Regions from separate parts of the Homo sapiens genome. Here region 2 is linked to region 1. Evidence: fine-mapped expression QTL. Tissue or cell type: ileum. Region 1 holds a variant in brackets; the other region holds the start of a gene. All regions are shown on one strand. Distances are from middle to middle.

Region 1 (2,760 bases):
ACTACAGATGTGTGCCACCACACCTGGCTAATTTTGTATTTTTAGTAGAGACGGGGTTTTACCACTTTGGCCAGGCTGGTCTTGAACTCCTGACCTCAGGTGATCCACTCGCCTTGGCCTCCCAAAGTGCTGGCATTACAGATGTGAGCCACTACGCCCAGCTATAGTTTGCTTTTCTAACATTTTCACCTAAAGCAGATTCTAAAAACATTTTATTTTTATTTTTTGTTTCTTTTTATTTGATTTTTTTTTTTTTAAAACAGAGTCTCACTCTCACTCAAGCTGGAGTGCAGTGGCGCGATCTCAGCTCTTCGCAACTTCTGCCTCCTGGGTTCAAGCGATTCTTGTGCCTCAGCCTCCTGAGTAGCTGGGACTACAGGTGTGTGCCACCATGCCCAGCTGATTTTTTGTATTTTTTTTTTTTTAGTAGAGACAGGGTTTCACCATGTTGGCCAGGCTGGTCTCGAACTTCTAACCTCAGGTGATCCACCTGCCTCAGCCTTCCAAAGTGCTAGGATTACAGGCATGAGCCACCATGCCTGGCCTCTAAAAACATTTTAAATTTGAATGCATTCTGTTTTTTTTGAGACAGAGTCTCGTTCTGTTGCCCAGGCTGGAGTGCAGTGGCGCAATCTCGGCTCACTGCAACCTCTGCCTCCTGGGTTCATGCGATTCTCCTGCCTCAGCCTCCCGAGTAGCTGGGATTACAGGCGCACACCACCACGCCTGGCTAATTTTTTGTGTATTTTTAGTAGAGATGGGGTTTCACTATGTTGGCCAGACTGGTCTCGAACTCCTGACCTCGTGATCTGCCCGCCTCGGCCTCCTAAAGTGTTGAGATTACAGGCGTGAGCCACCGCGCCTGGCAAATGTATTCTTTTTTAATTGCACTAGTTATACATGAATACACATTTGTGAAAAATTCAAATAAAACACAAGTATAAAGAGAGTAAATTTCTTTCCATTCTCCTCCGTATTACTCTTTTTGGAGGTTATTACGAGACTGCTAATAGTTGTCATTTAGTATGCATCATTCTAGAATTTTTTCCAGAAACATAAAAAAATTTATATTTTA[C/T]GCTTCTGTTTTGTTGTTGTTGCTGTTGTTTGAGACAGGGTCTTACCCTGTCTCCCAGGCTGGAGTGCAGTGGTGTGATTGTAGCTCACTGCCTGCTGCCTTGAGCTCCTGGGCTCAAGAAATGATCCCACCTCAGCTGCCTGAGTAGCTAGTAGTACGGGTGTGCACCACCACACCCAGCTAAGTTTTTGTTTTTAGAGGTGGGATCTTGCTGTGTTGCCCAGGCTTGTATTGAACTTCTGGCCTCAAGCGATCCTCCTGCCTCAGCCTCCCAAAGTGCTGGGATTACATCATGCCTGGACCTAGGCTTCTATTTTTTATATAAATGTGGTCATTCTGTCTTGATGACTTTCTCATGTACGTAATAACTTAAAAATAGATATTGTATAATAGTCTGGATACAGCAGAATTTACATAATAATTCTCCTGTTTTGGACATTTAGATTGTTTCCAGTTGTAAATAGAACTCTGCTGAACTTGTTTCACGTATTTTTGTGCACCTGTGATGGGACTATATGAGATAGATTTTTGGAAGTGAAAATCAGGGTTGAAGATTGATATATATTAGATTTTGAAAAATAATGCTGTATCATCCTTCACAAAAACTGTCAGTTACATGTGCCCACCAACAGTGTGTGAAAATAACCATTTCCTATCAACAATGGATTATACCTGTCTTTTTATTTTTTGGCAGTTTTATTGGCAAATCATATTACATTTTAGTATACATGTCCCTGATTACCATGAGGTTGACTATCTCCAGTGATTTGAAATTATTTGATCTTATCTTTCAACCCTTTTGCTATTGCTGTCTTTTTCTTTTTTTACATTAATTGGTACTCTATGATGGAAAGTAGTCTTTTATTTAATTATGTGTTGACACTATTTTTCCCAGTCTTATGACTTATATTTAATTTTATTATATAGAATATTATAGGTTTTGTTTGTTTGTTTGTTTGTTTTCTGTTTTGAGAGTCTCACTCCGTCGCCCAGGCTGGAATGCAATGATGCAATCTTGGCTTACTGCAGCCTCCGCCTCCCGGGTTCAAGCAATTCTTCTGCCTCAGCTTCCCGTGCAGCTGGGATTACAGGTTCCCACCACCATGCCCAGCTAATTTTTTGTATTTTTAGTAGAGATGGGGTTTTGCCATGTTGGCCAGGCTGGTCTTGCACTCCTGACCTCAGGTGATTCACATGTCTCGGCCTCCCAAAGTGCTGGGATTACAGGTGTGAGCCACAATGCCCGGCCAGAATATTATGGCTTTAATGCAGCAAAATCTATCAGTCATTCTTGTATTGACTCTGAGTTTGTCTTGCTTATGTAGAAAAAATGTTTTTTACCCATTACTTCCTTATATTTTTGAGTATGGATTATGATTCTGTTAGTGTTATGTTACCAAGGAGTGATAATAAGGAGCACCAATTTTTTTTTTTCTAGAGAAATCAGTGGGGTAAGCTGGGCGCGGTAGTTCATACCTGTAATCCCAGCAGTTTGGGCAGCCGAGGTGGGCAGATTGCTTGAGTCCAGGAGTTCAAGACCAGCAAGGGCAACATGGTGAAATCCCGGCTCTACAAAAAAAAAAAAAAGAAAGAAAAAGAGAGAAAAATTAGCCAGGTGTGGTGGTGCATACCTGTAGTCCCAGCCACTTGGGAGACTGAGGTAGGAGGATTGCTTGAGCCTAGAA
Region 2 (2,630 bases), 59 kb before region 1:
TTCTGGAACTAGATGGCAGTGATGGTTGCATATTATGAATGTATTATCACTAAACTGCACACTTTAAAATGTTTAAGATGGTGAATGTTCTTATATTTTACAACTAAAAAAATAAAAAATAAAACTACACATAGTGAAGAAGTAGGAAATGAAGTTGCAACCAAACGGATCAATATTTTGAGTGGGAAATCTAATACTTAATTCAGTGCTAATTTTTATATTTTTAGTAGAGACAAGGTTTCACCATGTTGGCCAGGCTGGTCGTGAACTCCTGACCTCAAGTGATCTGCCCGCCTCGGCCTCCCAAAGTGCTGGGATTACAGGTGTGAGCCACCGTGCCCGGCCTCACGCCCTTCTCTTAATTCCATTTTCTCTCCCCTCTGCCCCTTAATACACTGCACTTAACCTTGTCATAAGCCAAGGAGGACCTGAAATAAGAATACTCAAAACACGGTTGAAATAAACAAGAAGACAGAAACTAAAGCCAGCATTTTTTTTTTAATGCTTGGTAACTGTCCCTTTGTGTCTCCCTAAGTGCAGGATAAACTTCTTGGGGCAAATACAAACGTTTGATAAAATTCTGGGCCAAGGAGTCCTGCACTGGATATATTCAACAAATTACCTGCCGATGATAACAGCGTAAGTCAAACGAGTTCTAAAAGTAACAAATGACTTAGTTATCTGGATAAATCCGTCCTTCCTTTTCTTTTTCACCTAGCCCTTTTGTCGGGCCTCTAAAATGTAAGATAACTACGTGGGAAAGCAAGCAGCGGCTGGTGGTGTGTTTTTACCCTGATTTTATCACTCCAAGTATCTACCGTGGCTGGTTTTGCGAAGACTAGCTTTGTATCAGAATGAGGTGTGGCTGGAACGCCTGAGGAAAGCAAACCAAGTTTTCCAGAGGACGCCGTTGACAGCGTCTCCGCACACCGCGCCGGGGTAGGAACTTCCTCCCACCTGGTTCGCCCGGCGGGGAACCAATAAAGTTGAGCGCGTTCAAAGGGGTCCTAATCTTCCAGGGTCCACTGGGCAGGCCTGCAAAATAAGGCCCCTAGAAACTCCCTGAGGTTTTCAAGTCTTCTCCCTCTCCTCGGAATTTTTTCCCCTTCATTCGCATTACTTTTATTCTGACGGAAACGGCGCGGGCTAGGCCCCAGGAGGGGCGCATTTCAGGTGCAACTGGCCCGGCGATCGCGGCGGGCAACCCCTACGAGGCCCCCGGTTGACTAGGAGCTGGCGGTCCGAGCTGTGGCTTGGAAGACCGACGCGATGAAGCCCAGACCTGCAGGGTTCGTGGATAATAAACTCAAGCAGCGAGTCATCCAGGTGTGTATTCTGCACCGCTTGGCCTCGCCAAGGGCCCCGATCGCTGCCCCAGGGTGCCACTCCCCTTTTGTCGGGTGGCATCCAGGTGGAACTCAACTAGTCTTCTTTCCCCAGTCTGGGTCTGGGCGTGCGTCTGTTTCTCCTTAGTTGGTGCTGCCGGGGCCTTCCCTACCCACGTTGGTGCGGAGTCTCAGGGAGAAGCCGGGGATGGTGGGAGGGTGCAGCTTGGTAGGGCTGCCCAAGTTGTCTGGTCGTCTTCAGCGCAGATCATTCAGTAGAGTGGAGGTAGCCTTTGAATTTTAACCTCTTTGGCTTGTGAAGTTAGCACAGGAATGGTCTTCAAACGCTCGCATTGTAAGAGGTCCTTGAGAAGGGGTGGCATAAATAATATGTTAATTTCCGTTCTCAAGGAACTTACACACTAAAACGAGATAACATGGGTCTGGCAACAGTAACAGGCACTTTGCCTACGGTTTTCTCATTTTCATGACCATCAGTAAAAAGCAGTGTGTGGCAAATACCTCAGAATGTAAGCAAGCAGTCTGAGTTAAAAGGTGGGAGAGAATTTTCTTCACTTAGGAATTTGTGAGCTACACATTCTCCTTGTTTTTCTTTCACTTCACCAGCCCCTAAACAATCTCCTTTTCGGACCCATCTTTTCCTACCAACTTGTAAATGTTGGAAGTGCTCTGTGCCACTGTTCTCTTACCTCCCCTTCCTCCTCTTTCCTCATACACCTTTCTTATCTATCCATACTTCCTATGTGATCTCATTTAGTGTAATAACCTTTGAGTAGTATCTACATACTCTATTATCTATGTATTTATTTCATTTTATTTTTATTTTTCTGAGACATAGTCTCGCTCTGTTGCCCAGGCTAGAGTGCAGTGGCTGTTTATGGGCACAATCATAACTCACTGCACCCTCGGCCTCCCTGACTCAAGTGATCCTCCCTCCTCAGCCTCCCCAGTAGCTGGGACTACAGGTGTGCACCACCACACCTGGCTAATTTATTATTATTATTATTATTTGTAGAGACGGGGTTCCACTATGTTACTCTGGCTGGTCTCTAACTCCTGGGCTCAAGCGATCGGGCCTCAGCCTCCCAAAGTGCTGGGATTACCGGTGCAAGCTGCTGCACTGGCCTCTGTATATTTATGACTGCTAACTTTATATCTCCAGTCCAGATTTTATCTTGAAGTACAGATTGATATATCCAGCTGCCTAGTCAGCATATCTCCAAATTAAAATGGCCAAGTGGAATTTGTGATTTTTTTCTTCCTTCAAATCTGCCCTTTCTTAGT

Evidence for each region. PIP is the estimated chance that this variant, and not a neighbour inherited with it, causes the effect.
Region 2: it holds the start of NVL, and the variant in region 1 is fine-mapped to the expression of NVL in ileum (GTEx, PIP above 0.99). The same link has a PIP of 0.9 or more in naive CD8 T cells and whole blood.

Annotation. Positions count from the first base shown.
Region 1 is chr1:224,269,839-224,272,598 of GRCh38, reverse strand. All of the region lies in intron 17 of NVL (nuclear VCP like), which reads left to right. Among named protein-coding and RNA genes, the nearest start is that of MIR320B2, 14 kb to the right of the region's middle. The variant C/T (reference allele first, on the strand shown) is at 1,076.
Region 2 is chr1:224,328,767-224,331,396 of GRCh38, reverse strand. NVL (nuclear VCP like) reads left to right here and starts at 1,225. Exons shown (of 23, transcript NM_002533.4): 1 at 1,225-1,326. The coding sequence starts at 1,270. RefSeq lists enhancers at 1,008-1,157, 1,178-1,227, 1,418-1,467, 1,518-1,657.